Regions from separate parts of the Homo sapiens genome. Here region 2 is linked to region 1. Evidence: fine-mapped expression QTL. A gene starts in region 1. The other region holds a variant in brackets. All regions are shown on one strand. Distances are between the middles of the regions. Region 1 holds the start of KLK15 (kallikrein related peptidase 15). Region 2 has its middle 10 kb from the start of SNORD88C.

Region 1 (5,370 bases):
CCGAAGGGACAAGGCTGGGGACCGATGGGCTGTAGGGGATAAGGGGAGAGATGGGGCAAGGTCAGTGCCAAGGGCGTCTGGCCGAATAACTGGGTGGTCGGTGACGCTGCCCCTGAGATGAAGAACGTGGAAGAACAGGGAAGGAGGGTTTGGGGAAATAGAGCAATGAGTTGGGACTCGGTAAGTGAGAGGGGCCTAGGGACAGTGGTGCAGGGGGCGCCCAGGAGCAGGTGGCTGCCCAAGCCGGAGTTCAGGGTCAGATGGAGGAGACCTGCGTGGTTGGTGGATGAACCACGGGAGTTGATGAAAAACTCCCAGGGAACGTTCTCAGGAGGAGGAGCCGGGCAAAAGTGAGACTCAGGCCGCGGTGGGCGGGACCCAGGCCGCGGTGGAGGTGAAGGACGTCCGCGGACACGTCCAGGAGGACATCGATCGCGCGAGCCTGAGCCAGACACAGTGGGCGGGGACGGGGCGCCGACGTCACCGCGTGGGGGCGGGGCTGCGGGAGCCGCTGGCTGCGCGCCCTCCAGGGAGCCGAGCGCAGACCGGGTGCGCGCCTGGGTTCGGCGCGGCGGGAGCGCCCTCAGTGTCCCCGTCTGTATCAGGGGTGCTTCATCAGTACCTGCCTAGGCTGGTTAGGAGGAGGAGCACGTGCGATCGTGACGGGAAGCGCTCAGCACAGACCTGGCACCGAGGAAGTCCCAGGGGCTCGGCTCCTTTCCCTCGTCACCACCGCGCCCCAACAGAGGGAGGCGGCTGCAGGGGTGGCGGCGAAAGGGCCCACCGGGCGTTCCGGAGTCGGAACACTGATTCCTCTCCCGCGTGGCCTCTCGCTTCTGCAGGAACCTTGCTTGTGCTGCCTCCTGTCTGGGCCTCAGTTTCCTCCGTATTCAGCAGGAAGCCATAAGGTTATTAATATAAACACCTCACAGGGCTGCCGGGAGCCGGAGTGAGATCCTACAAAGAGAGCACTTGGCACGGAGGAGTGGCCTGCAGCCGCATTCCATAAACAGGGCTGCTCAGCTGAAGCGGTGGCCCAGGGTGAGGCCCGCAGACTTTGAGCATCAATTTGTGGGGAGGGAGGCAAAGGGACATAGGAGTTCTAGAATAGCTTCCAACCTGGGGATCTATTATGTCTGCCGGTCTGGGCTTGTAGAATGTCTGGAGACCCGACGTTCTAGAATGCATGAGGTTTCTGGGGACTCCAGAGTGCCCGATGTTCGAAGGTTCTAGAGTGTTTGGAGCTCTGTGGTTCTAGGCTATTCTAAAATCTTACCTTCCAGAGTGTCCTCCACTGCCAGAATGTCTTAGGGCCTGTGCTTTTAGAATCTGAAAGTCTGATATTCTAGAAATTCCAGGGGCCTGTAGTTCTAGAATGGCTGAATCCTTCCCATAAAGATGATGACTTTCCACACATGGGGAGAGACCACGCTTACAACAGGTCCCATCCTTCACTGGGTGACCTGAGTGAGGTCAGTCCCTCCTGTCTTGGGACCTCCTCATTAATTAAGCCAAAATAGACTCTAGATAATTGCTTGGGGCCCTCTGGGGTTCTGAGACATTGGAAGCCAGCCTCAAATACCCAAAGCCTTGGGTCATCTCAGTGATCATCTCCAGCCTCTGGGATGCAGAATCCAGATTTCAAGCTCTAGAACCCAGAAATAAGACTACAGGACCAGAATAGAGACCCTGGGTTCCCAGACTCTAAATTCAGACTCTAGAGTCAAGATTCTAGCAATCTCAGAATCGTGAAAGCCAGGTCCCTGTCTCTCAATTCAGCCTTTTAAAAATTTATTTACTTATTTATTTATTTATTTAGATTTTTCATAGAGATGAGGTATTGCTGTGTTGCCCAGGCTGGTCTCAAACCCTTCAGTTCCAGCAATCCTCCTACCTCAGCCTCCCAAAGGCATGAGTCACTGGGCCCAGCCACAGTCCAGGTTTTCAATGCAAAAACAGATTTGAAACTCCAGACTGTATGTTCCAAAGTCTACTCCTGAAAGCTCAGAGGCTAGATCCACCCTGTAGAATCCAGACCCCAAGCCTGGCATGGTGTCTCACGCCTGTAATCCCAGCACTTTAGGAGGCTGAGTCAGGTGGATCACTTGAGATGAGGAGTTCGACACCAGCCTGGCCAACATGGTGAAACCCTGTCTCTACTAAAAATATAAAAATTAGCTGGGCGTGGTGGTGGTCGCCTGTAATCCCAGCTACTCAGGAGGCTGAGGCAGGAGAATCTATTGAGCCCAGGAAGTGGAGGTTGCAGTGATCTGAGATCACGCTATTGCACTCCAGCCTGGGTGACAAGAGCGAAACTTCATCTCAGAAAAAAAAAAAAAAAGAATCCAGACCCCACAATTCAAAATCCCAAATCTACCATTTGTAGTCTAGGCCCCAGGCTTCTCATAGCAGGTGCAAAGGTTTCCAGCCTCGATTGCCAGATTCCAAACACCAGATTCCAGGCTCCTATTGTGGGTTCTAGATTCGAATGCCCCGGGATCCAGAATCAAGGTTCACGATCTGTCACTCAAAGGCCCGACTCCAGGATCCAGATTCCAGACCCCCAGCCCAAGAACTCAGACTTTGAAATCCATATTCCAGACTGCAGGTCATTAATCTCCAACTCAAGATCCTCAAATCCAGAATCCAAGACCCAGATCCAGAACCAGATCCGGATCCAGAACCCGGGATCCAGAACTCTGCCCCAAGCCCAAGAACAGGGACTTTAGGATCCAGTTTCCACACTCCAGACCCCAAATTCCAGACTCTGTCTTTTGATCTCCTCCTAATTTCTGTTTTTGTCCTCCTGTCCCCTCCCCCTTGAGGAACTGCTCCTGGTGGAGAATTCCTCTTTGTGGACTCAGACAACAGCTTCAACCTAATAAATGCTCATTAGGCCAAGTCTCCCACCCCACCAGCAACCAAGGCGTCTCTGCCTGTAAACCTGACTCTCAGCCACCTCCCACCCCACCCTACACCACCACACCCCCAGACCCAGCTGGGACTGGGAGCTTATAAATTCAGGCATCCTGGTACCTGCTCCCTTCTGGCACCCAAGCTGCCCTAGATGCTGCTGGAGGATCTGGAGGAGGTGAGAGCTTTGAGACAAGACTGAGGGAGGGGCAAAGGGGAGATTCACTGTGCCCTGGTTTCAAGGGGAAACGTTGACCACGCTTGGAGAACTGAGTGTCAAGGGCATGGGTAGATCCACGTGTCCTTTACCAATGCCCCAAATTGAACCTGAACCAAGAAAATGTCCTGGAATGGCCAGAAGGAGCTGCAGTGGTGGGGAGGGAGGGGGATGGAGTGGATCAGGAGGACGTCCCTGAAGTACTTGTATCAGAGCCAAGAACGTGGTCAGGAGTGATCACGGGTTCAAGTCAGTTCAGCACAACCTCCCGGAGGCCTCCTGTGTACCAGGCCCCAGGTGGGGCAGTGCTGAGGTCACAGAAAGAACCTGACCTGAGCCCCATCTTCAAGACCCCCAGATGGAGAAAAGAACAGGCCAGACCTCAGCAAGTATGGGGCATCTGCGCTGTAATGGAGACAGAATGGGTGCTGTGGGATTCAGGGGAGACACCTGTTAGGTGTTGGGGCCTCCCAGAAGAGGTGGGGGCAGAGTGTCAGAGGACAAAGATGAATTTGGAAGATATGGGGAAGAAGGATTTCAATTCACCCTCAAAGCTTCCTGAGGCCTCCCGTGGGTCGGGCCCTGCAGTACTGGAGACCCAGAGTGGAGTCAGACCAGCTCCTCGGGGAGCTGCCAGTCTCGTAGGGGAGGCAGACACCACTGAGGGTCAGGGGAGGTCAGAGAAGGCCTCAAGGAGGAAGCGGGGCTGGAAGGGAATGGCGTTGGATATGCGGTGGGAGGAATAGCCTAAGCATGAAATGGCAGGAGGGAAAATGGCAGCACTGGCTGCGTCTAGGACAAGGTCATGGGAGACCCAGGGAGAGGGGCTGGAAGGGAAGAAGCCACTTTTGTCCTTGAAAGTGAGGCTGGAGCCAGGCAACTCATGCCTGTAATCCCAGCACTTTGGGAGGCTGAGGCGGGTGGATCACTAGAGGTCAGGAGTTCAAGACCAGCCTGGCCAACATGGTGAAACTCCGTCTCTACTAAAATTACAAAAATTAGCTGGGCGTGGTGGCACACACCTGTAATCCCAATTGCTTGGGAGGCTGAGGCAGGAGAATCTCTTGAACCCAGAAGGCAGAGGTTACAGTGAGCGGAGATCACGCCACTCCACTCCAACCTGGGCTACAGAGCCAGACTCCGTCTCAAAAAAAAAAAAAAAAAAGAAAAAAAAAGAAAGAAAGTGAATTTGAAGAGCTGGACTTTATCCTGGTGGTGCCAAGGATCCATGGAGGGTGGTGAGCAGGGGAGGGGCACAGCCAGCTCCAGATGTAGAAAGACCCTTTGGGGTCATGGCTGGAGGGCAAGCTGGTGGAGGGGACTGGACTGGAGGGGGACCCAAAAGGCCAGATAAGAGGGTTGAGATAGACCAGGCGCGGTGGCTCATGCCTGTAATCCCAGCACTTTGGGAGGCCGAGGTGGGTGGATCATGAAGTCAAGAGATTGAGGCCATCCTGGCTAACACGGTGAAACCCTGTCTCTACTTAAAAAAAAAAAATTTCCAAAAAATTAGCCGGGCACGGTGGTGGGCGCCTGTAGTCCCAGCTACTCGGGAGGCTGAGGCGGGAGAATGGTGTGAACCTGGGAGGTGGAGCTTGCAGTGAGCCGACATTGTGCCACTGCACTCCAGCCTGGGTGACAGAGTGAGACTCCGTCTCAAAAAAAAAAAAAAGTTGGGACAGGGGTCCTTGGTGATGATGGAGAGAGATCCAGGGGCTGGTAGCATGGTGCTGGAGGCTGACAGGTGGAGGAGGTGGGGCAGGGTCTGTCCGAGTGCCTAGAGGAAGAGTAAACCTTCCAGAGATGGGGGACCCAGAAGGAAGCGCAGAGTGGGGTTGGGGGAAGGGGATACCGGTGGTCAGAAGAAATTTATTAACAGTGGATGGGATAAGTCTGTGTCTGGAGGGATCCTGGTGGAGGCAGAAGGGTCCTGCCTCACCTGGATTCTCTCACTCCCTCCCCAGACTGCAGCCGAACCCTGGTCCCTCCTCCACAATGTGGCTTCTCCTCACTCTCTCCTTCCTGCTGGCATCCACAGGTGAGGTGGCCCCAGGAGGGGGCCAGGTCTGTGGGAGCAGGTGCCCCCTTCCCAAGCATGTCTGGGCCCAGTGATCTGCCAGCCCCTACCTCACCCAGAGACCACTAAAGATCCTTCCTTCACCCTCCACCTGTGCCAATGTCCCTAAGCCCTTACCGTCAGGTGCTGGTGCTGCTGCTCTGGAGTCGCTATGTTGCCTGGG
Region 2 (5,370 bases), 21 kb after region 1:
TGAAGCTGCCTAAGCCTTGGACCTAGCTTCATGGGGAGAGTAAAACTAAGAAGGAAAACAGACAAGCGAAAGAGCATTGAGCTGACACTGAAGTCCCTGGCTCTCGTCATCCCAGAGAGCAGCCCACTCTGTGATTTGGTCAGAATGAGTGGATATTTGCAGCTTACCTCCCCACCATGCATTTCACCTCCTGCCCATTCCCCATTCTCAGCCCCAGTCTTAAGCCAATCAGCCAACTGTACTCCACTGGCCATATAATTGGCTCGGGGTGCTCATGTGCCCCAAGCCACACAGGATTCTTGCAAGAACTGTTGATAACTTTTTTCTACCGGACTCGGCAGTTATTACCAACTCTGCCAAGTTGCTAACAACTCTGCCAGTTTTTTGTCTGTCTGCTCTCAGATCCATTTCCCGCCCTGTCCTGTTCTGCACTGCAAGGACCACATTTCCCAGCCTCCTTTGCTCACCATCTTATCACTGTGTTTGACTAATGGGAGGCACTGGCAGAAGACTGGTTCTGGGAGGAGAGGGCAAGCCAGGGTATTTATTAGCCTCTCTATCTCTGCATGTGGTGGGTCTTCCGTAGTAGTTGTATCTATTCTCTGATTCTAGCCACTTCTGAGCAATCCAACCATGAACCTATGCGTTCCAGAGGGCTGCAGTTTCTGGACTGTAGTAATACCACCTCCTCCCTTTGTCCTTCTGGCCAAGTAGCAGCATCCTGTAGTTCCTAACTCCTGGTTTGCCTCACTATTTCCTATTGGCTTCTCAGCTCCTCTGTTACTCACGAACAAATTCCCTGTATTTACTTCCTTCTGAAGAATCTGGAATGATTTATTTTCCTTACTGGATTCTGACTTGCCACTACACAGAGCCTTGAGAATGAAGCCAATCCCATAGCCAAAAAACAGTAATATCTGATACTATCACTTGGGCCCCTGGATCCACCCATGCCTGAAGGCATTCCTACCATTACCATTTTTCACTCAGGTGATCCCATAAAGGATCCCCTAGCTAGTTCAAGTTAGTTCACTCAAGCTAATACAACTAGTTCACTCAAGCTAGTTCAAGTTAGAGTTTGTGTCACTTGTGGCTGGGCACGATGGCTCACACCTGTAATCCCAGCACTTTGGGAGGCCGAGGCAGGTGGATCACCTGAGGTCAGGAGTTTGAGACCAGCCTGGCCAACATGGTGAAACTCCGTCTCTACTAAAAAGATAAAAGTTAGCCGGGCATGGCAGCGGGCGCCTGTAATCCCAGCTACTCCGGAGGCTGAGGCAGGAGAATCGCTCAAACCCGGGGGGTGAAGGTTGCAGTGAACCAAGATCACGCCACTGCACTCCAGCCTGGGTGAAAGAGTGAAACTCCATCTCAAATTTAAAAAAGTAAAAAATAAAAAAAATTTAAAAAAAAAGAGTTTGTGTCACTTGTGACCCAAAAACTCCTGACTAATTCAAGTCCCTTCCTTAGGACAGCAGGGAGCACAGAATTCAATGTTCCCTGCATACCAACTCCAAAATCACAATCAAAACCTAAAAATAAGTAATGAGAATTTAAAAAAACAGAACTGAATGTTCATCAAAAATCTGGAGGGAGAACCTCCCGAAGCCAAGAAGCAATTAATAAAGTCACAGAGACAAAGGTGAAGAAATTAAACTACCTAAAAATTCTAAGGCTGGGCACAGTGGCTCATGCCTGTAATCCCAGCTCTTTGGGAGGCTGGGGTGGGCAGATTGCTTGAGCTTACAAGTTCGAGACCAGCCTGGGAAACATGGCAAAACTCTACCTCTACCAAAAAATACAAAATTATAGCTAGGAATAGTAGCACTCCCCTGTAGTCCCAACTACGTGGGAGGCAGAGGTGAGAGGATGGCTTGAACCTGGGAGGCGGAGGTTGCAGTGAGCCGAGATCTCATGCCACTGCACTCCAGCCTGGGTGATAGAGCCAGACTTTGTCTCAGAAAAAAAAAAAAAAATTCTAGATTTCTATACCTTAAAAAATAATAATAAGGGCCAGGCGCAGTGGCTTATGCCTGTAATCCCAGAACTTTGGGAGGCTGAGGCAGGTGGATCACCTGAGGTTAAGAGTTCGAGACCCGCCTGACCAACATGGTGAAACCCCATCTGTGCTAAAATTACAAAAAAATTAGCCAGGCACGGTGGTGCCAATTACCTACAATTCCCGGGTCAGTATCCAAGACCCTCCACCAGCCAGGAACAGTCACGGGGTCAGTATCCAACAGCCTCCACCAGCCAGCAGCAATCGCCTGGTCAGTATCCAAGACCCCTTGCCAATTATTCACAATCACCAGGTCAGTATCCAAGACCCTACACCAGCTATCAGCAGTCAACAGATCAGTATCCCAGAAACACCAGCCATTACCTACAGCCACGATTTCAGTATGCGAGGTGCTTCACCAATTTTCCAAACTCGCTGCTTCAGTATCCAAGGCTCTCACCCCCTGACTAATCATCAATTATCCCCAGCAACAAAGATCATGACCAAAACTACCTGTCAACAACCGAGACTGCCCATTTAAGTGTTCCAACCCCCAACTTCCAAGCCTGGGCCATTGTCAATGTGCTCCCATCACTTACCTACGGCCCCGAGCCCAGTATCAAAAGCATTGAATCAGTTACCTGGGAGTCCCAGGAGAGTCTGAAGGCAAGTGTGCTCAGCTCTGAACTCAACCAAAGTCCTCTAGACAACATGCAAAACCTCTCATTGTGCAGCTCCATTGAGATCAATTCTGGCAGGTATGAGGCAGTGCCCAGGCCGGAGGCCAAGTTCTGAGCTAGACTTCTGGGGGAGGAGAAGCAGTGCTGTGACATCTCCTGCCTGCATGAGCACAGCCAGGATGCTTGGAAGGCCTGCCCTGCCCTCACCACTCCTGGGACCCATCGCTCCACTTTATCCCAGGGACCCCTCCACCTGTCACAGAATGGTTTCTTCCTT[T/C]CCTGCAATGATCTTCACAGGTATTTTATGAGTCTCACGGCCCCAGGGTGGTCCTCCCAGCCACAGGATGATCCTCACTGACTGAAATGATCCTCACTGACTGAGATGGTCCTTACTGCCCCAGGATGGTCCTCACAGCACTGGGATGGTCCTCATTGTCATAGGATAGTCCCTACTGCCCCAGGATAATCCTCACTGCCCTGGGATAGTCCTCACAGCTCTAGAATGGTCCTCACTGCTCCGGGATAGTCCTCACTGCCCTGGGATACTCCTCACTGCTCTCGAATGATTCTCACTGCCCTGGGATAGTACTCACTGGTCCAGGATGGTCCTCACTGCCCTGGAATAATCCTCACTGCCCCAGAATTATCCTCACCACCCTGGGATGGTCCTCATTGCCTGAGATGGCCCTTACTTCCATGGGATGGTCCTCCCTGCCTGGGATGGTCCTCACTCCCTGGGATGGTCCTCCCTGCCTGGGATGGTCCTCCCTGCCTGAGATGGTCCTCACTGCCTGGGACGGCCCTCCCTGCCTGGGACGGCCCTCCCTGCCTGAGATGGTCCTCCCTGCCTGGGATGGTCCTCCCTGCCTGGGATGGTCCTCCCTGCCTGAGATGATCCTCCCTGCCTGGGATGGTCCTCCCTGCCTGAGATGATCCTCCCTGCCTGGGATGATCCTCCCTGCCTGAGATGATCCTCCCTGCCTGAGATGGTCCTCCCTGCCTGAGATGGTCCTCCCTGCCTGGGATGGTCCTCCCTGCCTGAGATGGTCCTCACTGCCTGGGATGGTCGTCACTCCCTGGGATGGTCCTCACTGCCTGGGATGGTCCTCACTCCCTGGGATGGTCCTCACTGACTGGGATGGTCCTCACTCCCTGGGATGGTCCTCCCTGCCTGAGATGGTCCTCCCTGCCTGAGATGGTCCTCACTGCCTGGGATGGTCCTCACTGCCTGGGATGGTCTTCCCTGCCTGAGATGGTCCTCACTGCCTGGGATGATCCTCCCTGCCTGGGATGGTCCTCCCTGCCTGAGATGGTCCTCACTGCCTGGGATGGTCGTCACTCCCTGGGATAGTCCTCACTCTCTCGGATGGTCCTCAATGACTGGGACGGTCCTCACTGCCTCAGAGGGTTCTCACTGCCCTAGGATTGTCCTCACAGCCCTAGAGTGGTCCTCACTTCTGGGAATGCTCCTCACTGCCCACCCCACTTCTCACTGCCCAAGAAGCTGCCCTCACCAACCTAGAGGTAGATCCTCAGTGCTGGAAGTATCAGTCTCAATGTCTCTTCTCTGGAGCCCAATTTAAATTTTCCTAAAATGAGAATAAATAATTTGCAAGGGAGGAGCTTTGAGAATACTCCCACACCAACTGGTGACCCTTGTCCCCATACTCAGAGCCTGGGCCAATCATGGTGTTCCTGATTATCTTCCTTCCCCAGACTTGCTGGACCTTTCCTGGGCCTTCCTCCTCTTCTCCAGCATCACCAGCTTCTGCCTTTGCATAGCCCTAATAAGCACCATCCTCTTTACCGGCTCCAACCCGTCCATGCTGGATTTCTTCACCTTCATCACCAGCATCCTGACAGGCATGGCACTTCCCTCAGGAACCAAGGCGAGGAGTACCTCCTCCAGTGCCAATCATGAAACCCAATCCCATCCCCACCACACTCCAATCCCATCCCCATCCTGACCATCATCCGCAATCCCAACCCCATCTCCTTCCAAATCTCTAACCCATTCCCATAAAAAACATCAACCACCAGCCCAACCCTATCTCCAGCCCCAATACCAGCCTCCACTTCAAGTCCCATCTCCATCACCAACAAATCTCAAACTCATTCACATCCCTTTCCCTCATGCCCCTACTCCATCCCAATTCTACATTCTTTCCAATCACCAAACCATCCTCATTACCATCCGCAACCTCTTCAAACATCTCAACAACCAACTTTGCAGCATCCCAACCATCCTCAACATATGTTTCAAATGCAACCCAATTCTATCACCTGTGAACTTCAATGCCAAACTCAATCTAGTCCATTCCCCACTCCATCCTCTTACCCATATCCAATCCATTTTCATCCCCAACCATGACCTATCCTCATCCACAACCCACTCCCATCACAACTTACCCCCAACCACCACCCATCCCCACCACAACCCTTCCCCACCACAATTCACTCCAACCACAACCAACCCAAACCACAACCATCCCATCCACAACCCACCCCCAACCATAACCTATCCCCACAACAATCCACTTCCAACCATAACCCATCCCCATCCTCATCCCCAACCACAACCCATCCCCATCCCAACCCACCCCCAACCAGACCATCCCTGTTCCAACCCATCCTCAACCACAAACTACCCCATTTCAACCCATCCTTACCCCTAACCATAACCCACCCCCA

The links. PIP is the estimated chance that this variant, and not a neighbour inherited with it, causes the effect.
Region 2: its variant is fine-mapped to the expression of KLK15 in thyroid (GTEx, PIP 0.94).

The regions. Positions count from the first base shown.
Region 1 is chr19:50,831,248-50,836,617 of GRCh38, reverse strand. It overlaps KLK15 (kallikrein related peptidase 15), which reads left to right and starts at 3,044. Exons shown (of 6, transcript NM_017509.4): 1 at 3,044-3,091; 2 at 5,095-5,168. The coding sequence starts at 5,126. It overlaps LOC105372441 (a long non-coding RNA gene), which reads right to left. Exons shown (of 3, transcript NR_131205.1): 2 at 5,325-5,370. RefSeq lists an enhancer at 185-234 and a silencer at 395-654.
Region 2 is chr19:50,810,155-50,815,524 of GRCh38, reverse strand. It overlaps the pseudogene TMEM277P. Among named protein-coding and RNA genes, the nearest start is that of SNORD88C, 10 kb to the right of the region's middle. The variant T/C (reference allele first, on the strand shown) is at 2,957.